Homo sapiens: one gene and its partners. The protein of the gene in region 5 purifies or fractionates together with the protein of the main gene of each other region. This does not show direct contact. Each region holds a gene or a part of one and is shown on either strand. Other genes may lie near its edges. The genes, in order: EIF2S3, EIF4E, DCP1A, PRRC2C, ATG4B, NCAPD2 and GLUD1.

What was found.
Region 1: the proteins of ATG4B (region 5) and EIF2S3 purify together in Homo sapiens (affinity purification with mass spectrometry; one large-scale study listed by BioGRID and IntAct). This does not show direct contact.
Region 2: the proteins of ATG4B (region 5) and EIF4E purify together in Homo sapiens (affinity purification with mass spectrometry; one large-scale study listed by BioGRID and IntAct). This does not show direct contact.
Region 3: the proteins of ATG4B (region 5) and DCP1A purify together in Homo sapiens (affinity purification with mass spectrometry; one large-scale study listed by BioGRID and IntAct). This does not show direct contact.
Region 4: the proteins of ATG4B (region 5) and PRRC2C purify together in Homo sapiens (affinity purification with mass spectrometry; one large-scale study listed by BioGRID and IntAct). This does not show direct contact.
Region 6: the proteins of ATG4B (region 5) and NCAPD2 purify together in Homo sapiens (affinity purification with mass spectrometry; one large-scale study listed by BioGRID and IntAct). This does not show direct contact.
Region 7: the proteins of ATG4B (region 5) and GLUD1 purify together in Homo sapiens (affinity purification with mass spectrometry; one large-scale study listed by BioGRID and IntAct). This does not show direct contact.

Annotation. Positions count from the first base shown.
Region 1 is NC_000023.11:24,071,956-24,075,455, reverse strand, and holds part of EIF2S3 (eukaryotic translation initiation factor 2 subunit 3), read right to left. Parts: intron 2,366-3,500; coding exon 2,193-2,365; intron 1-2,192. UniProt on the Homo sapiens protein: Member of the eIF2 complex that functions in the early steps of protein synthesis by forming a ternary complex with GTP and initiator tRNA.
Region 2 is NC_000004.12:98,922,634-98,926,133, forward strand, and holds part of EIF4E (eukaryotic translation initiation factor 4E), read right to left. Parts: intron 1-3,500. UniProt on the Homo sapiens protein: Acts in the cytoplasm to initiate and regulate protein synthesis and is required in the nucleus for export of a subset of mRNAs from the nucleus to the cytoplasm which promotes processes such as RNA capping, processing and splicing.
Region 3 is NC_000003.12:53,309,544-53,313,043, forward strand, and holds part of DCP1A (mRNA-decapping enzyme 1A), read right to left. Parts: intron 2,837-3,500; coding exon 2,698-2,836; intron 1-2,697. UniProt on the Homo sapiens protein: Necessary for the degradation of mRNAs, both in normal mRNA turnover and in nonsense-mediated mRNA decay. Removes the 7-methyl guanine cap structure from mRNA molecules, yielding a 5'-phosphorylated mRNA fragment and 7m-GDP.
Region 4 is NC_000001.11:171,492,030-171,495,529, reverse strand, and holds part of PRRC2C (protein PRRC2C), read right to left. Parts: intron 1-3,500. UniProt on the Homo sapiens protein: Required for efficient formation of stress granules.
Region 5 is NC_000002.12:241,661,693-241,665,192, forward strand, and holds part of ATG4B (cysteine protease ATG4B), read left to right. Parts: intron 1-3,500. UniProt on the Homo sapiens protein: Cysteine protease that plays a key role in autophagy by mediating both proteolytic activation and delipidation of ATG8 family proteins. Required for canonical autophagy (macroautophagy), non-canonical autophagy as well as for mitophagy.
Region 6 is NC_000012.12:6,521,602-6,525,101, forward strand, and holds part of NCAPD2 (condensin complex subunit 1), read left to right. Parts: intron 1-196; coding exon 197-436; intron 437-1,226; coding exon 1,227-1,401; intron 1,402-1,660; coding exon 1,661-1,745; intron 1,746-3,500. UniProt on the Homo sapiens protein: Regulatory subunit of the condensin complex, a complex required for conversion of interphase chromatin into mitotic-like condense chromosomes.
Region 7 is NC_000010.11:87,070,844-87,074,343, reverse strand, and holds part of GLUD1 (glutamate dehydrogenase 1, mitochondrial isoform a precursor), read left to right. Parts: intron 1-3,500. UniProt on the Homo sapiens protein: Mitochondrial glutamate dehydrogenase that catalyzes the conversion of L-glutamate into alpha-ketoglutarate. Plays a key role in glutamine anaplerosis by producing alpha-ketoglutarate, an important intermediate in the tricarboxylic acid cycle.

The DNA of each region.
Region 1 (3,500 bases), on a different chromosome or scaffold from region 5:
GTGGTATGGACTGTGATGAGGTGACGAGGAATGGAAAGCAAGGGGCAAACTCAATAACCTGGGAAAGAGCAAAAAGTCAGGAGCCAAAAATGTGTGTATGCTTCCTGGCTCTATGCTCTCAAAAGACCTAGAAGCAACAGCACCCTAAGAGCCATGAGCACACCTGAACACTCAGCTTTTCATTTATAAGAGAAATGGCCAGTTCTAAAACTGGAACAGAGAAGGTACAAGATGAGTCTGGAAGATTTTGTGCCAGAAAATAAGGAAATGTTCCAAAAAAAAGAAGAAAGAGGTCAGGCGTGGTGGCTCATGCCTGTAATCCCAGCACTTTGGGAGGCCAAGGAGGGCGGATCACCTGAGGTCGGGGGTTAAAGACCAGGCTGGCCAACGTGGTGAAACCCCGTCTCTACTGAAAATACAAAAATTAGCCGGGTGTGGTGGCGTGTGCCTGTAGTCCCAGCTACTCGGGAGGCTGAGGCAGGAGAATTGCTTGAACCTGGGAGGCAGAGGTTGCAGTGAGCTGAGATCATGCCACTGCATTCTACCCCGGCGACAAAGCAAGACTCCATCTCAAAAAAAAAAAAAAAAAAAAAGAAGAAGAAAAAAAAATGATGAGTACATGTCAAAAGGACACAAGAGCCAGCCTGAAGGACCTCCACTGGCCAAACGTCGAACAATGCACATCAAAATAAAGGAAGACAGTGATGGATCATAACATGTTGAATAAAATAGGACTCCATGAGTCCATATTATAACTAGATAGGGAAATAAATAATGGCAAAGAAAGAATGCCAAATGATAAATGTGGGGTGGTAGAGTTGAGGGAGGATACTGCAACCCGTAGAGGTGCTATGATTTTGTAATCATTATAGTCAAGTTCGATTCAGGCAAGAATCATCAGTGGATGCTACATCCAGGGGTGTGGGATTCAATGATCAGCAGGCTATTTGTACTGGCTAGAAAGATCTCCCTACAGATTGCTTATTAGTTGCAAGGGTAGAGAGTAACTACACAGCAGAGAAGCTGGACAACATCTTGACTACATAGTCAAAACTAACCTTAACAAAGAGGAGCAGTCAGATATCATGTGCCTCTAGCTGTGATTCCTGAAAAGGAGACTTCACGGTGTATTTAAGTTAAGAATATATAACTGAATCTAATGTTAGGCTTCCGAATGATAAGAAAAACCCAAATTGAGGAATATTCTATAAAGTAACTAGTTTGTATTCTTCAGAACTGTTAATGTCAATTAAGACAAAGGCTGAAAAAGCTCCAGATTAAAGATCAAAGAGACATGAAATTAAATGCAATTCAAGATTCTAAACAGGAGGAACATAAAGTACATTATTGGGACAAGTAATAAAACTGAAACATGCACTGTAGATTTCAGTATTTTGCCAATGTTAAATTTCTAAGTGGTTACATAAGAATATCCTTTTTTGATGGGAAATATACACTGAAGTATTAAGAGATCAAGAAGCATAACATATATAGCCTACACTCAAATGGTTCAGAAAAAAACTTATATATGTAAATAAATCTGTATGTGTGTTTGTCAATCTAGGAAAAAGCTATAGAGGAGTTTTCTGTAAAACTCTTACAATTTTTCTATTAAGTGTGAAATGATTTCCAAAGCCAATGACGATAGAAATACCGAACCCAAATTCATTTGGTTTTGCATAGGTTGTGTCTAACAGGAAGAGAAGCCAATCACAGTATTTGGACTAAAATATGGGACTATAGTCAAGGTTGTAGTTTTTTCTGAGACGGAGTCTCGCTCTGTCGCCCAGGCTGGAGTGCAGTGGCGCCATCTCGGCTCACTGCAAGCTCCGACTCCCAGGTTCACGCCATTCTCCTGCCTCAGCCTCCCGAGTAGCTGGGACTACAGGCGCCCGCCACCACGCCCGGCTAATTTTTTGTATTTTTTAGTAGAGACGGGGTTTCACCATGTTAGCCAGGATGGTCTTGATCTCCTGACCTCATGATCCACCCGCCTAGGCCTCCCAAAGTGCTGGGATTACAGGCGTGAGCCACCGCACCCGGCCGAAGTATAGTTTTCAAAGTCATCCAAATAAATAGTTGAGACTGAAAGCCACAGTAACTGTTGTCCTCAAGGAAGATTGTGTGCTTTTTTTTCTGTACAAGACTGTGTCTTTTTTTAATTAGACAGTGGCAAAGACTAACAAACTTACCGCCAGTGTTTTTCAACTCTTCGGCTAAGGGCAATTTTTTCTCCTACCTCTGTGCACACTGGATTGGTCAAAACAATTTTACCCAAATCGGCCTTGACAGCACTAACTCTCCCTCCTGTTGACAGGGATCCTATGTTCACCATGAGCACTTCATTCTTAGACAGCTTTTGAACCTAGAAAAATAAATTAGGGAAAAATAAACCCCAAAATCAAGAAAATGCTTTCCAAATGTAAGTAAGAATTTACCAAATACTATTGGGAAATATGTCAATCATAAAAAAAATTCTATAGAAATTTCATTGTAAAGGAATTTGAACTATATATAGTATAGTTTATTTGGCACCCACTGAATTTACACAAGATCTACCTTTAAAAAATAGGGTAGTAACCGTACCAGAGTACCTCTTAAAATTCTGAAGCAGTTACCTAGTACAAATGAGGTACAAAATTTCCCAAAGAGGGGAGCATGAAGGACTATGGCTATATAAGAGTTAATATGGGCCAGGCGCAGTGGCACACGCCTGTAATCCCAGCACATTGGGAGGCCGAGGAAGGCAGATCACCTGAGTGGGGGGAAAAAAAAGCATGATAGCTTATTTTCCTCAATCTTTGCCAACACTAGGTGTCAGCAATTTCCCATCTCTGCCAACCTAATCTGGGACATTTTTTAAAAATCATGAAGCTGGGCGCAGTGGATCACACCTGTTAATCCCAGCATTTTCGGAGGCTGGGGTGGGCAGATTGCTCAAGCCCAGGAGTTGGAGATCAGCCTGGGTAATGCGGCAAAACTCCGTCTCTACAAAAAATACAAAATTAGCCAGGCGTGGTGACCCACACCTGTAGTCCCAGCAACTCAGGAGGTTAAGGTGGGAGGATGGCTTGAGCTGGGAGATCGAGGCTGCTGTGAGTCGAGATCGCACCACTGCACTCCAGCCTGGGCAACAGAGCAAGACTCTGTCTCAAAATAAACAACAAAACAAAAATATGGATTTTAGGAATATCATGTCTTTGTCATAAATGGCTAATACTTTTCCCTGTTTATTAAGTTTCTTTCTTAAACTAACTGCCATATAGTTCTCAATTTTGGCCGGACGCAGTGGCTCATGCCTGTAATCTCAGCACTTTGGGAGGCCAAGGCGGGCGGATCACTTGAGGTCAGGAGGTCAAGTCCAGCCTGGCTAACATATAGTGAAACCCCATCTCTACTAAAATATACAAAAATTAGCTGGGCGTGCTGGTGCGTGCCTGTAGTCCCATATACTTGGGAAACCGAGGCAAGAGAATTGCTTGAACCCAGGAGGTGGAGGT
Region 2 (3,500 bases), on a different chromosome or scaffold from region 5:
TGTAGCAATTACAAATAACGATCTTTCTACATTAAAAATAGCTGTTACAAACAAGGTATGTTTATAAGGTTTTTTTAGTTAGTTGCTTACAACTATAAATCCATATCCTTAATTCCATATCCCTATAAATCCAATGCTGGTTAGATTTGTAATGATTCCACAAAAATTTACTGAATATAGTGTGACTAAACTTCATTTTCCTGTTTTTTCTTTTTTCTTTTTTTTTTTTTTTGAGAAGGAGTTTCAGTCTTGTTGCCCAGGCTGGAGTGCGATGGCAGACATAGGCTCACCGCAACCTCCACCTCCCAGGTTCAAACGATTCTTCTGCCTCAGCCTCCCAAGAAGCTGGGGTTACAGGCATGTGCCACCATACCCAGCTAATTTTGTAATTTTGTTAAGTAGAGACAGGGTTTCTCCATGCTGGTCAGGCTGGTCTCGAACTCCCGACCTCAGGTGATCCGCCCACCTCAGCCTCCCAAAGTGTCGGGATTACAGGCGTGAGCCACCACGCCCGGCCCATTTTCCTACTGTTTCTATGGAATAATGTATCAAAAGTTCCAACTGGGGAAACAAAAAAAAAAAAACCCCTTATATTTCTGACCACATTCTCAGGTTCCAGAAGTGCCCAGAAATGACTATTAGTATTTTAGACACACACACACACACGCAAAATCATTTTCTTTTTCTTTTTTTTTTTGGTGAGATAGGGTCTCTTTCTGTCACCCAGGCTGGAATGCAGTGGTGTGATCACAGCTCACTGCAGCTCTGACCTCCCAGGCTCAGGGGATCCTCCCATTTCAGCCTCCTGAGGCTAGGACACAGGTGTGCACCACCATATTCAGCTAATTTTTTAATTTTTTGGAGAGACAGGGTCTCGCCATGTTGGCCAGGCTGGTCTCAAACTCCGGGCTCAAGTGATCCTCCTGCCTTTGTCTCCCAAAGCCTCGGATTACATGTGTGGGCCACCAAGCCCAGCCCCTTTCTTTTTCTGGAGACATGATTAGGGACTTTTGAAGGAACACTAGTGATTTTTATGGTAGGGATAGGAGTGGGAAGAACATCTTAGGATTGTGAATCACAGGCTTTGCATTTCTTGCTAATGGCTAAGGATTGATAATTAAAAAGCAGCAATGTGAATTTCCAAGAAAAGAGGGAAAATAGTATGTAAATGCATGGATATACATGAGTATAAAACATTCATGGAATGTCAACTTTAGTCCCTTACAGTTGACAAACTGTCACCTTTGAATACTGCATTTAAAAATTGAAATCACCGTAATATATCTTATTCCGACTTTCAGCTGACTTAGAAATTTCAGTCTTCAAGATCACTCAGATATTAAGATGAGACTATAACCCATGCTCATTTCCACTTCTCAAAAAAGTCTCTATGACTAAGATGGTGCAACTCACCGGTACTAATAGATTAAGGAAACTTCTTTTGTTTATTTTTTTTTTTTTTGAGACGGAGTCTCGCTCTGTCACCCAGGTTGGAGTGCAGTGGCACAATCTCAGCTCACTACAACCTCCGCCTCCCAGGTTCAAGAGCTTCTCCTGCCTCAGCCTCCTGAGTACCTTGGGATTACAAGCACGCATCACCACGCCCAGCTAAGTTTTGTATTTTTAGTAGAGGTGGGGTTTCACCATGTTGATCAGGCTGGTCTCAAACTACTGACCTGGTGATCTACCCACCTCGGCCTCCCAAAGTGCTGGGATTACAGGCATGAGCCACCGCACCCGGCCCATATTCTTAACTTTATGTAAATTAAACAATATTTTACTTAAATGTTTTTTGCCTACAGTTTTCTGTCCAAACTAGAGTAAGCTTACATAATTCATTTTGCATATTATCCCTCTGCAACTTCTGTGTATAAACTGTGTGTCTACATTGAATTTCTCTAAGTCTAATAATCATGCTCATTAACTCAGATTATAAAATGAAGTGTGAAATTTGTTTCTGTTTTTTTTTTTATTCTTTTTGATGGAGTCTTGCTCTGTCGCCCAGGCTGAAGTACAGTGGTACCATCTCGGTTCACTGCAACCTCCACCTCCAGGTTCAAGCGATTCTCCTGCCTTGGCCTCCCCAGTAGCTGGGATTACAGGCGCCTGCCACCAGGCCTGGCTAATTTTTGTATTTTTAGTAGAGACAGGGTTTCACCATTTTGGCCAGGCTGGTCTCGAACACCTGACCTCAAGTGATCCCCACCCGCCTCGGCCTCCCAAAGTGCTGAGATTACAGGCGTGAGCCACCGCACTCAGCAAGTATATTTTTTTCTTTTAATTGAAGAAATCTGGAATATGAACCCCAGAGCCAAATTTACGTGGATTATCGAGGAACTCTGATATAGTGGGTTCTTTCATTAAGCAAAAAGTCCACTAATTTGCATAGTCTGGTTGGCATTCAATTGTTCATTAATATGAATTATATAGTACAACAAATATTTGTCAATATGTATATAAACCTTATTTACTCTTATTAATAAGCTGTGTAGTACAGAGCATGTTTCCAAAGTATAAAAAAGGAAGCATTAAATTAGCTGATTGTCCAAGTTGATTCACTTATGAAATTAGCGTGGTTTCAAAAAATTCAAGAGCTACAATGTAAAAACAAGTAAAATTATACACTTTCAGTTAAGCTAAAGAAATCAAAATTAATCTCTTACCTCAAAAGGAACTACAAGTCAAAAAAAAATTTTTTTAATTCTAATAATGAACGATGTAGAATGAAGATAAAGCTACAAAGAAACACGACCTACTGGAGGTAAGATGGCCTTGCCATTTTCACAGACTAATATTAAACCTAATTTTGACCCAGCCACAATTCAAATGCCGATAGAATAACATCAGAGTACCGTTTGCCCTAACGTTCAAATTTTTGCCAAATTATCCGTTAAGAGGTAAAATGTTTCCCTTAATTTTCCCTTTCAAGCTTCTCAACAAATTTAATATTTGTGGGCCACATCTTCATGTAACTCAACTCATACAAAGAGAAAACCACACAATAATATCAAACTGAAAATGATATTTTATGTAATGTCCATAGACAAAAATCATCCAGATACCTATGCATGATGGGATAAGCAGGAAAAGCCCATGGCTCTTTTTAAGTGTTTATGATTATGCACAGCAGAAAACCATTATGGAAGCTCACAAACTAGCTGAAGTAAGAAAAAACATGATTTTTGCAGCCTTCAGCAGGGGTATCTCAAGTACAATCCAATTCTAATCAGTTGCTTCAAAAAAAAATCCAGGCGAGGCTCGGTGGCTCACGCCTGTAACCCAACATATTGAGAGGCCAAGGTGGGAGGACCACTTGAGTCCAGGAGTTTGAGACCAGCCTGGGTAACCATCGCGAGATTCCATCTCTACAAAAAGTTTAAAAATTATCCGGGCGTGGTGGCCTGCTCCTGTAGTGCTTGCTACACCAGAGGCTGAGATGGAAGCATCTCTTGAGCCCAGGAGTTTGAGGCTGCAGTGAGCTATGATCGCGCCACTGCACT
Region 3 (3,500 bases), on a different chromosome or scaffold from region 5:
GAGCCCAGGAGCTTGTCAAGATCAGCCAGGGCAACATAGTGAGACTCTATCTCTACAAAAAATAAACAAAATTATCCAAGCATGGTGATGCATGGCCTATAGTCGTGGCTAATTGGGAGGCTAAGATGGGAGAATGTCTTGAGCCTGGGAGGTAGAGGCTGCAGTGGGCCAAGATTGTGCCCCTGCACTCCAGCCTGGGCAACAGAGAGACCCTGTCTGAAAAAAGAAAAGAGTCTCATTATTACAAGTGCTCATTCAAAAGTCTGAAATTTCGTTCATTATATCATACTCAGCAGATAGCGGAGACTCAGAATCAGGATTAAATCCCAACACTGAGGCCTAGCTTGCACCCCTGCCCTTGATTGCCAATCTTCTGAGTCTTCACCTAAAGATAAACAAAGGGGCCGTCTGAAAAAATGTGGCAGCTGAAGGGAGCCCATCCAAACACCAAGACCCATGAATTCATGGGTCACTGCTTATACCAGCTCCATCTGATGAGATGATAGACAAATGCAGATAAGAGAACAAAACTCTAATTCAAAGAAGCTCCACCTATTGCAGACAGTTTTCAAAATCAGAAAGAACACATGATAAAGTAAATATCAAAGATTTAACCAAATCCCAAAGGGTTTCATTTTAATCTACCCATAGACGATATTTTATTCCATAGTGTGAAAGAAGTTTATTTAAAACAGAAACTATCATGCTATCTATATTCCTTTTGTAATATTGATATAATTCAAAATAATGTCAGATGTTTAGATTGCCCACCTGACCCTAGAGTTCCTTTAAAGTTTTGTGTTCAAAGCTAATGTCTTATTTCCTACTTTCTCGTTGTGGCTACTTAACCTCTCAGCCTGAGTAAGCCAGGCCACTTACTGGAGTATCTGCTTTAGTGCGCAGCACCTACAGTTTCTGTCCCGTGTGGTACCTTGATACAGTTATTACTCAGGATGAGTGACAGAGCCCTGGACTTACTAGGTACCTATGAGAACACTGAAAGGGCTCTACAAACAGAACAAAGTATGTACGTAGAAAATCCGCTTGTCATCAAGGGTAGAAGAGGGGAATGTAAGGTAACTTCTAAATCAGAAAGCCATTCTTGAAGTTAGTTCTCATTTGGTTTCCTAAGAATCGATTAATTTATTAGAGAGGTGACTGCTCCTCCAAATTTAACTTCCATAGATCCATTCATTCCTCCTAATTCTCTGTGAGACATTGAAGAATTTGGTACAAACTTGAAACTTCTCATGGGCTCTCATGTACATTTCTCCACCCTGGAGGTGGGACTTCCTTTGTTATCAGAATGTAGAAGGTCTATGTAGTTTATGGTGAACATGCCTATTTTTAGTCAGAAGAAACTATCTTTCAGAACACTTTTTTCAAACTTTTTCCTGAACTCCAAATTCTTGAGTTGTTAAAGGGCAGTATGCAAAAAATGGTCCTGCAGTCAAGTCAATCTGGGAATTGGTGTTATTGTTTTACTTATTGCAGGACCTCTCAGTTTTGAGCTCTGTAAAGTCCCAAGAGGATGGGAGGAGGAAGAGTCATGCTAACAACAGTACCTTAACTCGTTTTGCCAATTTGAAGCTTTTTTCAGGATCACTGATTAATAACTTAGTAGCTGGTATTATAGCAGAACTGTATGGGAAACAGGGTCTTTTGGACAGTGCTTTTTCACATTTTGTTCCTTGAAGTTCTGGTGAGGTGAAATAGGCATGAAAGGAAAGCACTTAATTCAATATTTAATGAAGAGTAAGGTGACAGTATAATTCTGCTAAAACAAAGTTCAGCAGTAGAGAGCTTGTCTCACTCCAGTGAAGTGTGGGGGCTTTGAGGTGCCAAGTAAAATTCCAGGAGAGTCATAACCATGAAATGCCCACTGCTTGCACATAGTAGATGGTTCATAAGCAGGTATTGAATAAATTAACGAAAGTACCACAATTGCCATTTTATTCAACTTTTGGGAGAAAATTTTATCAGCTAATTTATAAACTAAAATGCACAACAGAAGAGAAAGAAAACAGTGAATTTCAGAAAAGCCTCTCATTTGGGTAAAATTCCAAATGAAGCTTAATGAAGGTTGTGCATCTACCACCAATTACAGACCATGAGTGTATTTTTTAGTATTATGTGGTACAAACTATCAGAATACTTTTCAAAGCCTAAACAAATTCCTAGGACCACTGAGGATCCTAACAGAAACTGCAGTGGTGAAGAAGAGGCACGAAGCTTTACCAGAACTAGCTGCTGCGAGCTAACTTCTGCACTCCAAGACCATCTTCTCCCATAGTAATCTTATAGGAATAGAAAAAAGCATTGTAAATTTTCCTGCCAAAAACAAGTAATCTGGGGTAAGCAAGTTCTTTCCTTATGTTTTAGGTTTAAAATTGTAAGACACATCTGTTTTAAAAAAAAAAAAAGAGAGACACAGGGTCTCACTGTTGCCCAGACTAGAGTGGAGTGGCACAATCATAGCCCACTGCAGCCTCCAACTCCTGGAGTCAAGTGATCTTCCTTCCTCAGCCTGCCAAGTAGCTGGGACTGATTACAGGAGTGTGCTAACACGCTCTCTTTTTGAACTTATATTTCTGCCGTCCCTGGAGGCCAGCTTCCCTAGTAAAATAGTCTCCTGCAGACCTCCTCCTCCCGTTTTGGTCTTCCCTGGTCAGCACCCAAGTACCCAGAGAGCCTCACCCTCTCATACTCATCCTTGGCTCTGCTCAGCATCTCCAGGATGTCGATGGGCCTGTGGTCGCTGCAGCCATTGGCCTGGCTGGGACTCTGTTTGTCCCGAGCAGCTTGCTGGGATCGCCGTGTCTCCTCTTCTACCACACTAGAGGAGAAGAACAAGGTTTTAGAAAGGCCTCTTGAAACAAAATCTGACCCAAGATTTCTTTTGGTGTTCATCTTCCAAGGATACACTAAGAGTGTCACATGATGACATTCTTCTTTTTTTTTTTTTTTTTTGAGATGGAGTCTCGCACTGTCGCCCAGGCTGGAGTGCAGTGGTGTGATCTCGGCTCACTGCAAACTCCACCTCCTGGGTTCACACCATCCTCCTGCCTCAGCCTCCGGAGTAGCTGGGACTACAGCGCCCACCACCACACCCGGCTAATGTTTTGTATTTTTAGTAGAGATGGGGTTTCACCGTGTTAGCCAGGATGGTCTCAATCTCCTGACCTCGTGATCTGCCCTAGGCCTCCCCAAGTGCTGGGATTACAGGCCTGAGCCACCGCGCCCAGCCGATTACATTATTCTTGCAATATATAACACAGAACTTCAGTTACCTCATTTCAGAAATAAATGACTTACCATTTCACCGTCTCATTAACAGTGCCAATATTTACCCTTCAGAAGGATAAAAATACAGAATTCCTTCCTAGAGTTGGCAGAGATGCATTACAAACTCCACTAAGGTTTCTCCCTTTTTCCCTTGAAGTATTTCAAAATCAGTCAAACTAATTGCTAAAGTAAATATGAAAACTGACAGTTCCACC
Region 4 (3,500 bases), on a different chromosome or scaffold from region 5:
TTTTATATTTAAAAGAATGTGGTCAATATGAAATAATTTGGCCTGGATATGTTGGACCCTGTCCTTTTCCATGTCAATAACTTGAATAAAGACTTGGAAAGTAAACATGGCATATGAAATAATATATACATCTGAAGGAGTACCAATGTATTCCATGACCAAGATTTTTAAAGGTCTTAGAATGCTAGGCAGAATTAAACAATTAGTTATACAGTCATATTAACAGTTCAGAAACTGGATTTCATAAATGCAGAATACAGACCCAGACTGTCATGTGAAAAAGGTTCTAGCTGTGACAGCTAGTAGTGTGACAATACTGCTTTATAAAATTTTAATAGAAATCTAATGCACAGATTTGGAGTCATAACAGTTCCACTGAATTTTATGTTTGTCACAGTATGTTTAGAGTATTATGCTCAACTCCAGGCTTCATGAAGACAAACATTAACAAACGACTGAATGCAAAGGAAAAACTGTTCAGTTTATCCATAAGTGAGTAAGTTACATTAAACTAAAACTTATAGCATTACTTTAACAATTTGCCAAATAACCCAAAGAGCTGTGAAATGACGTGTAATTTTGCTAAAGCACAAAATGTAACTAACATGCCATGAGGTATGCATCTAGAAAATAAGCTTGGATATCCCTCACCACTCCTAATGCTGAGACCCCAGGCCCAGAGCTTTGTTTTCTTTTAGGGGATACAATAACTCTTACAAAGAGAAATCTGTTTCTTTCTTGAGGGAGGGGGGCAGGGTGGGGAAGAGCAGTGAAGAGGAGGCCAAATCCTAGTGTAGATCACGGAAGGCGAAAGTGAAGAGGTTTGAATGCTAAATACGGAAATTTGTAAGATCTTAGGACATATGCTTTGTGAATGTTAAGGGGTGACTGTAGTAACCTACTAATCATCAGATGGATCCAAGCAAAAGCAAGGTAAGCCTGTCAGAAATATTATAAAGATAATTCTTGCTTTGAGTAAGAAGTTGAATTGGCCACTTACAAGGTCTCTTCCATTTCTAGTAGTTAAAATGAACTAGTAATTCTAAGGTCAAATATTTTAAGAGTACATTTGCCACTATAATAGTAAAGCTAAGAATACCACCATATGTTGAATTCTTTTACTACAAATAGCAGTTCGGCAAAAACATCCAAAATGGTCATTTTTTAAAAAACAAAGTGTAATATAAATAAATCTGCTGGAGTTCTAATCAGGATAGTGGAAGGGCTCAGGCTGTTCCTGGAAACTGAAACATGTGAATTAAGTTTCCGGAGTAGGATAAAGCCTTAACAATCAGAACAGAAATGTAGCTATCAAATTTTCTGTACTAAAAACTGCTGTCCTTAAAAAGTACAGCTGTTCTGTCTACCGATTACTTAATGAGGTGATTGCCAGGGCATTCTTTTTAACAACTTATGTATTTTAAAATTGTTAAAATTACACAACTGTTTCTCTTAAAACTGTTTTTGTTTAAATTCTAGCTCTAATATTTAGTAGCTAGGTGACCACAGGCAAATTACTTAATCTCAAATTTTTTACTTCCTCACCTGGGTGGGCTATAATATCTACTCCAATACTATTATAAGATTTAATTAACAAAGTGTGTATAAAGCTCTTAGAATAGTGTAAAGCCTGTAACAAAAACTTATTAAGTGGTAATCAATATTTGCAAAACTAATATATTAAAAAGAAAAACCCAAGCATAGATAATTTCTTCTCTTTTTTTTTGAGACAGAGTCTTGCTCTGTTGCCCAGGCTAGAGTGCAGTGGTAGGATCTCCGCCTCCCAGGCTCAAGCAATTCTCCAGCCTCAGCCTCCTGAGTAGCTGGGGTTACAGGCGCCTGCCACCACAACTGACTAATTTTTGTATTTTTAGTAGAGATGGGGTTTCACCATGTTGGCCAGGCTGGTGTCAAATTCCTGACCTCAAGTAATCCACCCACCTTGGCCTCCCAAAGTGCTGGGATTACAGGGTGAGCCATCGCTTCAGGCCCAAAGCATAGATAATTTCTTAGTCAACCTTTATTTATTATTTTCCTTTTCAACAGTTTTACTCTGTCACCCATGCTGGAGTGCAGCAGTGCCATCACTTTGCAACCCTGAACTTGAGCTCAAGTGATCCTCCTACCTCACCCTTCTGAGGAGCTAGGACTACAAGTACATGCCACCCCATCCAGTTAATTGAACTTTGTTTTTTGCAAGGCCAAAGTATGTTGAATGTTATGAGAGTGAAAGAGAAGTACTTGCTCCAAGATGCTCATCTAGCATTATGAATTATGGTTAATCTTTTGGAGGACCAAAGGGTTGCCTTTAAAAGTCAGAATATTAATTTTAAATTTATTAAGTGTAGAGAATTGGTTAACATCCCTCCGTATCATTGGCCCTCTTCTTCTACCACTGAAATATCCAGTCTTAAGACATGTAAACCTATTTCCTTCCTTCTCTTCTTTTATTATTTTATTTTATTTTATTTAAATTCCCCGGCCAGGCGCAGTGGCTCACGCCTTGTAATCCCAGCACTTTGGGAGGGCGAGGCAGGTGGATCATTTGAGGTCAGTTCAGGACCAGCCTGGCCAACACGGTGAAACCCCATCTCTACTAAAAATACAAAGATTAGCCAGGTGTGCTGGTACACACCTGTAATCCCAGCTACTCGGGCTGCTGAGGCAGAAGAATTGCTTGAACCTGGGAGGCAGAGGTTGCAGTGAGCCAAGATCGCACCACTGCCTCCAGCCTGGGCGACAGAGAGAGACTCTGTCTCTAAATAAATAAATAAATAAATAAATAAATAAAATTAAAAAAATTCCCCTACCCTCTTGCTTTTAATAAGAAACAGGGTCACCTTAATGTTGTCCAGGCCGGAGTGCAATGGCTATCCCACTACTGATCAGCATGGGAGTTTTAACCTGCTCTGTTGCCAACCTGGACCAGTTCACCCCTCCTCAGGCAACCTGTTAGTCCCCCACTCCCAGGACACCCTATTGATGCTGAATTTAGTGCAGACACTCAGTCCATATGTAGAACACAGTGCGCTACCCTCCACAACTCCTGGGCTCAAGAGATCCTTCCACCTCAGCCTTCCAAGTAGCTAAGACCACAGGCACATGCCACAACACCCAACTCCTTCTTTTTCTTTCTCCTACTTTCATTCTTTCTATGTTCAAGTTTGTCATAAATATAACAGTATAATCAAAATATTTTTTCTTTCTAATCAGAAAACAAATCATTCAGCATGGGTAGGCCATTCTTGGCTTTTTCCATCCCTCTTTAATAGTTATTTCTTCAAGAGAATTTCCCTGTCTCCAAAATGCCAGAAGACTCTAGTTCTACAGTTGGGAGATGTTTTATCTTTCTACATTCTGTATCCTAGTTGTGGGGGCTACAAAAATCCATACGTACTAAAACTTAAAGAACTGTACACCACAAATCAAATTTCCAAATATAAACTTAAAATTCACCTGTCTAAAGCCTCCTTTGTTTTCAATGTCCTCTGTTTTCAAAA
Region 5 (3,500 bases):
TGAAGCCTGTGGGGTAAGGGGAGACCTTACTGCCTACAGTGTCCCCATCCACCAACCCATCCCCCCCGCAACTCATCCTTCTGTCCACCCCCAGTCAAAGGCCAGCCAGGACATCCTTAGCATGCTCTTCTTGTCCTTAACGTTGATGGGCTTAGACCTTTCTAACGACAGTAGACAGAATGTCACTGAATGTAGGGAGGAAATACAGATTGGAAAACGTGTCAGTCTGGCAGTGAGGACAAATGACTCCAATGAAAGAAAAGTAAATACCAGAGCAAGCACAGTCAGAAACAGAGTGGGGAGGAGAATCACAATAGCTGGAACTCAACTCTCTGAGAGGCAGTGCAGCCAAATAGAGGCAGCTGAGAGCAGAGTATGTGGATTAGAACTTTTCGGGAGAGTTGGCCACTGAAGGAGTAGGAGAAAATTCCCCTGAGTTGGTGAGAGTTGAGTCTTTAGAGCTAAAGACCCCCAAATTTTTTTATCAGAAGTACTTAAACATACATGTTCCTGATAATATTTCCAAATTGCAGAAGTAAAGGGAAACTTCTCTAAACATCCAAATAATAGTATCACTACTAAGCTGCTTTGAAGAAAGGCAGTCTCAACTGGCCTGGGCATCTCATCTTTGTGCCATACCAAATGCTACTGGAAAATGTTTAGAATTCTGAGAAAAGACCTGGCTTCATGAGGTGAGAGTAGGTATGTGTACTGTGTAGTTGTCATTGATAGAGAAATATAAATTTTAAATGTGTTCAAAATATAAAGAGAACACGAGAAAATTTCAGGTGGTGGCAGGAATAGGCAAAAGCCCGTTGCACCCTGTTGACAGCAGGGTGTTTGTGACGTGGTAGGTCACACACTCAGTGCTGGGCTCTGGAGGCACAGAAGCAACCGGCCCAGCTACGCATCAGCCCTTGAGCCGATTCATGTGTTCGATCATATTCCTGAGACAGTAGGGTCTGTGCAGGTAACAAAGCACCAGTCAGCAGGAAACTCACCACCGGGAAGCCTTTCTATCAAAACATAACTTCAAAATCAGTAAAGTGGGCCGGGCATGGTGGCTCACGCCTATAATCCCAACTTCAAAATCAATAAAGCGGGCCGGGCGCGGTGGCTCACGCCTATAATCCCAACTTCAAAACCAATAAAGTGGGCCGGGCGCGGTGGCTCACGCCTATAATCCCAACTTCAAAATCAATAAAGCGGGCCGGGCATGGTGGCTCACGCCTATAATCCCAACTTCAAAACCAATAAAGCGGGCCGGGCGCGGTGGCTCACGCCTATAATCCCAGCACTTCGGGAGGCCAAGGTGGGTAGATCACATGAGGTCAGGAGTTAAAGACCAGCCTGGTCAACATCGTAAAACCCCATGTCTACTAAAAAAAAAGTTAGCTGGGCATGGTGGCACGCCCTCGTAATCCCAGCTGCTCGGGAAGCTGAGGCACGAGAATTGCTTGAACCTGGGAGGCAGAGGCTACAGTGAGCTGAGATCATGCCACTGCACTCCAGCCTGTGTGACACAGTAAGACTGTGTCTCAAAAAACCAAAACAACAAAAAATAATAAAAATATATAGAAAACAGAATAATTAACAGATTAGCTATGGAAAGATCAAAGCTACAGGGGACCCAGATAACACAACAGGCAGAGTTTAGTAGATACGTGTCAAACCCTAGATTGTGACAGCAGAGTGTGCCTGGGAATTTCTATGAAACTAATGCGGAATAAAATGAAAAAAGGACAAAACCCTGCTGCCTGGAAATGTGAAACCTCAAAAAAGTCAAGTGTAGAGACCGTAACTATGTATCTGAACCTGATGTGTACAGAACTCAGAAGAAAACCTGTGTATCTTCAGTACTAGTATATGGGTTCTTTACAAAGTGAAAATTAATGAAATAAGCATACAACTCAAGAATTCGGAAAAAGCAAAATTAACTGAAGAAACCAAAGAATAATATTAAAGACAAATACAGAAATTAATGATTTAAAGGAAGAAATGTATTAGGCCAGGTGTAGTGGCTCATGTTTGTAATCCCAGCACTTTGTGAGGCTGAGGCAGGAGGATTGCTTAAAGCCAGGAATTCAAGACCAGCCTGGGCAACATAGCCAGACGTCTATTTTTTTTTTTTTTTTGGAACAGTTCTGCTCTGTCGCCAGGCTGGAGTGCAGTGGTGGCACGATCTTGGCTCACTGCAATTTCCGCTGCCCAGGTTCAAGTGATTCCCCTGCCTCAGCCTCCTGAGTAGCTGAGACTACAGGTGCATGCCACCACGCCTGGCTAATTTTTTGTATTTTAGTGGAGATGGGGTTTCACCATATTTCACCATGTTGGCCAGGATGGTCTTGATCTCCTGACCTCATGATCTGCCCACCTTGGCCTCCCAGAGTGCTGGGATTACAGGCGTGAGCCACCGTGCCTGGACCTCATTCTATAAAATATTTTAAAAATAAATTTTAAAATTAAATTTATTAGAACTAACACATACTAGAACTGGCTCTTTGAAGCAATAACATATATGTTTTAAAAAAATCAAAGTTAAAATCCCTCCCTTGGCTAAGCACTGTGGCTCCCGCCTGTAATCCTAGCACTTTGGGAGGTGGAGGCAGGCAGATTGCTTGAGTCCAGGAGTTTGAGACCAGCCGCCTAGGTAACATGGTAAAACCTCATCTCTACAAAAAAACAAAACAAAAAAACTAGCCGGACATGGGGGCATGTACCTGTAGTCCCACCTACTCGGGAGTCTGAGGTGGGAGGATCCCATGAGCCTGGGAGGTTGAGGCTGCAGTGAGACATGATTGCACCACTTCACTCCAGCCTGGGTGACACAGTAAGACCCTGTCTCAAAAACCAAACAGAAACCCAAACAACTCCCTTAAGGCTGGGCGTGGTAGCTCCTACCCATAATCGCACCTCTCAGGGAGGCTGAGTTGGAGGATTGCTTGAGACCAACCTGGACAACTCCCTCTCTATAAGAAATAGAAAAATGAGGCCAGGCACATGGCTCATGTCTGTAATCTCAGCACTTCGGGAGGCTGAGGTGAGCAGATCACTTGAGGTCAGGAGTTCGAGACCAGCCCGGCCAATGTGGCAAAACCCCGTCTCTACTAAAAATACAAAAATTAGCTGGGCGTGGTGACACACACCTGTAATCCCAGCTACTGGGGAGGCTGAGGCAGGAGAATTGCTTGAGCCCAGAAGGCGGAGGTTGCAGTGAACCGAGATTATGCCACTGCACTCCAGCCTGGACAACAGAGAATCGGCTTCAAAAAAGAAAAGTCAGGGGGCACAGTGGCCCACACCTGTTGTTCCAGCTACTCGGGAGGCTGAGGCGGGAGGATTGCTTAAGTGCAGGTGTTTGAGGCTGCAGTGAGCTGTGGTTGCACCACTGCACTGCAGCCTGGGTGACAGAGTGAGACCCCGTCTCTAAAAGAAATTTAAAAAGTTCTGTCTCAGAATCCTTGTTTTCCAGCTGTCTGTTTTGAGAAATTTGAGTCCTA
Region 6 (3,500 bases), on a different chromosome or scaffold from region 5:
ACCTTAGCCCGGGGAAGTTGAGGCTGCAGTGAGCGGTGATCATTGCCACTGCACAGCCTAGGCAACAGAGTGAGACCCCATCTCAAAAGAAAAGAAGAAGGAAAATAAATAAGTAAATATCCAGGAATGTTGACAGCTGTTGGATTCCCCTGTATCCCCTTGAACGAAACCATCCTGTACTTCTCTAACTCCTTAGGCCCAGCAGCTTCCACACAAGAAAAGAATCCCCGGGAGTCTACAGGAAACATGGTCACAGGACAGACTGTCTGTAAAAATAAACCCAATATGTCGGATCCTGAGGAATCCAGGGGAAATGATGAACTAGTGAAGCAGGAGATGCTGGTACAGTATCTGCAGGATGCCTACAGCTTCTCCCGGAAGATTACAGAGGCCATTGGCATCATCAGCAAGATGATGTATGAAAACACAACTACAGGTATGCCAGAGTCCCTTTCTATAAGGACAGCCTTGGGGTTCTTTTGGATTTTTTAATTTTTTAAATTTTTATTAACAATAGAGATGGGGCCTTCCTTTGTTGCTCAGGCTGGTCTCCAACTCCTGGGCTCAGGCAATTCTTCTGCGTCAGCCTCCCAAAGTGCTGGTATTACAGGTGTGAGCCACTGCACCCGGCCATGGATCTTGGAGTTCTTTTCCATATTTTATTGATATATCTATCTGCTCCTTTAAAAGGCAGGGGTTCTCGGCTGGGCGCGATGGCTCATGCCTGTAATCCCTACAAAACTGGGAGGCCAAAGCAGGAAGACAGGTTGAGGCCAGGAGTTCGAGAGCAGCCTGGGCAACATAGCAAGACCCCATCTCTACAAAGAAACAAAAACTAACTGGGCGTGATGGCACGCACCTGTAGTTCCAGCTACTCGGAAGGCTGGGCAGGAGGATTGCTTGAGCCCGGGAGTTTGAGGCTACAGTGAGCTGTGGTCATGCCACTGCACTCTAGCCGGAGCAACAGAATAAGAACCTGTGTCTTAAGAAAAGAAAAAAAAAAGGCAGGGGTTCTTTTTTTCTGTTTGCTTCCTCTAGCCACTTACAGCTTATACATTTTAATGCATATAGTATTTCATGATAAGGCATCATAGGAGGAGTCGACATTCTCAGGGAAAATGCGGAAGGCCTCCATTTGCATCTTGCTACATTCAGAAAGGTTCTGTCGTTAGGTATTGGGGGAGTTTTGTGAAGTAGATAGGTGACATTTGTACATGTTCTCTCAGTGGTGCAGGAGGTGATTGAATTCTTTGTGATGGTCTTCCAATTTGGGGTACCCCAGGCCCTGTTTGGGGTGCGCCGTATGCTGCCTCTCATCTGGTCTAAGGAGCCTGGTGTCCGGGAAGCCGTGCTTAATGCCTACCGCCAACTCTACCTCAACCCCAAAGGGGACTCTGCCAGGTATATGGGGTGCTTTTGCCTTTGCTGACTTTTCCAAGGTCAGCTTCTCACAGGACTTCCCTTGTCTCCTAAAGGAAGAGGTGCATTTCTCCAGGGGAGTTCCAGATCCATAGGCAGTCCATCATAGTGGGGCTTAGGGTGGGGCTCGGTTTCCAGGGAGAGCAGTTTTGTAGCACTGTGGTGGGATAGCCCTAATCACTGTTTGCCAAGTTCAGCTTCCCAATCTTATAGTGACCGCTGATCTCTGCTGTTCCCACAGAGCCAAGGCCCAGGCTTTGATTCAGAATCTCTCTCTGCTGCTAGTGGATGCCTCGGTTGGGACCATTCAGTGTCTTGAGGAAATTGTAAGGCTTCCTGCTTTCTCTTTCTTTATTCATTCAACAAGTATTTTGGTTGTTTTTTTTTTTTTTTTTGAGACGGAGTCATGCCCCATTGCCCAGGCTGGAGTGCAATGGCACAATCTTGGCTCACTGCAACCTCCGCCTCCCAGGTTCAAGCAATTCTCCTGCCTCAGCCTCCCGAGTAACTGGAATTACATGCATGTGCCACCATGCCCGACTAGTTTTTTGTATCTTTAGTAGAGACGGGGTTTCACCATGTTGGCCGAGCTGGTCTCGAACCCTTGACCTCGTGATCCACCCGCCTCAACCTCCCAGAGTGCTGGGATTACAGGCGTGAGCCAAAGCGCCCGGCAACAAGTATTATTGAGTTATTACTATGTATTTAGCAATTTACTTAGCTCCAGAAAGAAGTATAAGACTATTTGCTTTCATGTTCCCAACTTTAAAGGAACCAACAGTCTAGTTGGTAGTGAAAAACCACAGAACATTTTTAGAACAATGCAGCAGGTAGATAATAAAGTGCCAGAATGAGTTGTACGGGTAATGGTTGTCATAGCAATAATAACAACCTCACTTATATGGTATTGAATATATGACAGGCACTCACACGTTACTCACAGTAACTTGTTTAATCCTCACGACAGCCCTGTGAGGTAGCATTATCTGCATTTTACAATGAGAAATCTGAGGCACAGAGAAGTTACTGAACTTGGCTGGTTACAGCTAGTTAGTGGCAAAGTTTGAGATTCAAACTCAGGCAATAAGAGCTCTAGAAAACATACTCTTAACTTCTGTGTTCTACTGAGGGATACAGAGTAGGAAAGAGAGCGGTTTGGGGTAGAATGGTCAAGGAAGCTTCCTGAAGGTGGTAGGACTTAAGCTGGGTCTTGAAAGATGAGTAGGATTTAGAGAATCAGAGCAAGGAGGGAGGGCATTTCAAACAGAACCCAAGAAAGAGCACAGTTCACATTGTAGAACAAAGAAGACTGTGTTCTGGTTCAAATTATCTGGAAAAGACCAGGCGCGATGGCTCACGTCTGTAATCCCAGCACTTTGGGAGGCCAAGGCAGCAGATTACCTGAGGTCTGAGGTCAGGAGTTCGAGACCAGCCTGGTCAACATGGCGAAACCCCACCTTTACTAAAAATACAAAAAAATTAGCCAGGTGTGGTGGTGGGCACCTGTAGTCCCAGCTACTTGGGAGGCTGAGGCAGGACAGTTGCTTGAACCCAGGAGGTGGAGGTAGCAGTGAGCCGAGATTGCGCCACTGCACTCCAGCCTGGGCGACAGAGGGAGACTCTGTCTCAAAAAAAAAAAAAAAAAAAAAAATCTGGAAAAGATAATAAAGTTGTGAATGTAGGTTGGAACTAAACTGTGGAAGTCCCTGAATGACTTCAGGAGTCTAGGACTTTAACTGTGTTAGCCAGGCACCCAGCATTTTAGTGAGACATTCTGCTTTGTAGCATTTGCATTGCGGGCACAGAGAGTGGAGGTGGCGCTGGGAAGCGTGCTCCTGCCAGCCACATTTTTCTCCTCACTGGGGAAAAGAAAAGAGCCTGGTGGTGGTGATTGGCCATGATGTCATAGGTCAGTTACCGGCAAAAGCCCTACAAGAGGCAGGGGAGAGCACCTGCAAACTGGGGTGCAACAGAAGGGACGTGGGGAAGCAGAGGCTGAGGAGACCAACCCATGGGAAGGAAGGCCCGTGGAGGCTGCTGCAGTGGGCAGTAACGAGGGGCTGGACTTGAGGATTGGAGAA
Region 7 (3,500 bases), on a different chromosome or scaffold from region 5:
TTTTTACTGGAGATGGGGCTTTGCCATGTTGGTCAGGCTGGGCTTGAACTCCTGACATCAGGTGATCCACCCATCTCGGACTCCCAAACTGCTGGTATTACAGATAGGAGCCACTGTGCCCGGCCTCCTACTATTTGTTATAGGAGCTTTTGCCAAACATACAACATTTCTGAAGATATTAATCTTTGTTTGCTTGATGTTTTTGTATCTTACTATTATCTGTGTTTATATTTTCTTTGTGCACAATCTGAATATTCTTTTTATGATATGTAAGTATTTGTCATGTACCCTTTAATTTTCAAGCAGTTTAAACCTATATTTTTTTTAATCTAGAAGGCTTCTAATTTGTTTGAATAGAATATGCATAACTACTTAATAGAATGCTTGCCCTATCAGTATAGTTAATAGAATGTTAATACTTACTGCCGAGCGTGGTGGCTCACACCTGTAATCCCAGCACTTTGAGAGGCCGAGGCAGGTGGATCACGAGGTCAGATCGAGACCATTCTGGCTAACGGGGTTTAGTAGGAATCCCATCTCTACTAAAAACACAAAAAATTTGCCAGGCGTGGTCGCGAGTGCCTGTAGTCCCAGCTACTCAGGAGGCTGAGACAGGAGAATGGTGTGAACCTGGGAAGCAGAGCTTCCAGTGAGCCAAGATCACGCCACTACACCCCAGCCTGGGCAACAGAGCGAGACTCCGTCTCAAAAAAAAAAAAAAAAAAAAAAAAAAGAATGTTAATTGTTACTTAATAATAGAATACTTGTCCTATCAATATCAGTATAGTTAAACAAAATAAGGTCTACTTAAATAGAAAATAAAGTGTATTTTTCTCTACTTTCCTTTCTTAGCATTTCCCCCACAAGTTCCCATGAAATTAAACTATAAAGGCTGGGCATGGTGGCTGGTGCTTGTAATCCCAGCATTTTTGGAGGCTGAGGTGGGAGGATCACTTGAGCCCAGAAGTTCGAGACCACCCTGGGCAATATTACAAGACCCCATCTCTACAAAAAATGAAAACATTATCCAAGCGTGATGGTGCATGCCTGTGGTCCCAACTACTAAGATGGGAGGATCCCTTAAGCCTGGGGGGTTGAGGCTGCAGTGAGCTATGATTGTGCCACTGCACTCTGGCCTGCCACACTCTGGCCTGAGCAACAAAACGAGACCACATCTCAAGAAGAAAGAGAAATGAAATAAAGCTATTCGGATTCATTTTTAGGAAAAAAAAGTCATGAAATAAATGTCATGAAATAACCTAATATAGAAATACAGTAAGTATAGGTAACTCTAAAACTTGACTAGATTTGGCCTGTCTTTGATAATAAAAGGCATTTGGGCCTTTGATGTGCCGCATACCCAGCACTACTGTGAACTTGTGCATCCTTACATGGAGTCTGTTAACGTAAGTTAATATGAGTTAACTATCTCGCTCACACTTTTATAGGAGTGCCTACTGATTCTGAGATATGGTGAATTGAAGTCATCTTCAGCCTGTTAATAGCCTTCATAATTTTTAAAAGGTCTTTCCTCTTCCCCTAAATCTCAAACACATTTTATAGTCTTGAATGGTTTCAGACTTTATTCAGTCATATTTGTCACCCATATCTGCAATATCTCCAGCTTAATTTTATCAGACTTGACAAGTACCTAATAATTCCAAAGGTCAAAAAGTGATTCATTGGAATACTGAAAGAAAACACAGCTTAAACTCTAGTAATTTGATTTATTTGCTTAATGTGCAAAAGCCTCATTGACCCAGGATGCAGTTAAATTGACGTCTTGGCCCAGAAAGCTTTGAAGCCTAGGAGGTAGGCAAAGGGAGTTTTTTCTCTCACTCCTCGGCAAACCTTCAAATTTGATGTTATTTATCTGTTATTTCCTGACTGCCCATTCCACAGAGAGTGTCAGATTGAGGCTCAGACCTGAGCCTGAACCCTGATCCTGTCACATGTGTGTTTAGCATCAGCTTGTAAATTTCTGCAAAACAAAAGAAAAAAAGAGGCTGGGATTTTTATAGGAATTTCATTGAATCTGTACACTAATTTGTGGAGTATTGCCATCTTCCCCACCCTCCCCAAAAAGGTTTTGTCCTTTCACCCAGGCTGGAGTACCAGACAGCAGTCACTGCAACCTTGACCTCCTGGGCTCAAGCAATCCTCTCACCTCACCCTCCCAAGTAGCTAGAACCACAGGGGTGTGCAACTGTGCCTAGCTAATTTTTTAATTTTTTGTGGAGACACGGTCTCATCACGTATCCCAGACTGGTCTCAAACTCCTGAGCTCAAGCAGTCTTCCCACCTCAGCTTCCCAAAATTCTGGGATTATAGGCATGAGCCACTGCACCTGACCAGTATTGCCATCTTAACCATATTAAGCCTTCCAATGCTGAATATGAGATGTCTTTCCATTTATTTAGGTCTCTTGATTTCTTTCAATGATGTTTTGTAGTTCTCATTGTAGAAGTCTTACATAGAAGTCTTACAACTAAATATTTTACTCCTTTTAATGCTATTGTAAGTGACATTGGTCTATAGTTTTCTTATGATGTCTTTGTCTAGTCTTTGTATCAGGACAATTCTAGCCTCATGGAATGAGTTGAGGAGTGTTCCTTCCTCTTCTGCTTTTGGAAAAGCTTTTGAAAGGTCAATGTTCATTCTCTTGTGTGAGTGTAAATATCACCTAAGTTCTGCAGGACCCTGATGTCTCCACCCTTCTCATCCCCTTATATCTCTGTGTACCAAAATTACCCTTTCATCTCCTACTCTATAGTCACATGCTGTTAGAAAAGTTGCTTTTTTAAAAAAGATTAACTTCTGCCTCATACCTGTTCTCTATATAAGAATTTATCTGTTAGGCCAAGCATGGTGGCTCATGCCTGTAATCCCAGCACTTTGGGAGGCTGAGGCGGGTGGATCACCTGAGGTCAGGAGTTCGAGACCAGCCTGGCCAACATGGTAAAACCCCGTCTCTACTAAAAATAAAAAAAAATTAGCCAGGCAGGTACCTGTAATCCCAGCTACTCAGGAGGCTGAGGCAGGAGAATTGCTTGAACCTGGAAGGCGGAGGTTGCAGTGAGCCGAGATCATGCCATTGTACTCCAGCCTGGGCAGCAAGAGTGTAACTCCTTCTCAAAACATAAAAATTAAAAAAAAACAAAAAGAATATATCTGTTATTCAGGAACTACTTGTTTTTTGTTTTTGTTTTTGTTTTGAGACAGAGTCTTGCTGTGTCACCCAGGCTGGAGTGTAGTGGCACGATCTCAGCTCACTGCAAGCTCCGCCTCCCGGGTTCACGCCATTCTCCTGCCTCAGCCTCCCAAGAAGCTGGGACTACAGGCGCCCGCCACCACGCCCGGCTAATTTTTTGTATTTTTAGTAGAGACAGGGTTTCACTGTGTTAGCCAGGATGGTCTCGATCTCCTGACCTTGTGATCCACTCACCTCGGCCTCCCAAAGTGCTAGGATTACAGGCATGAGCACCGCACCCGGCCTCAGG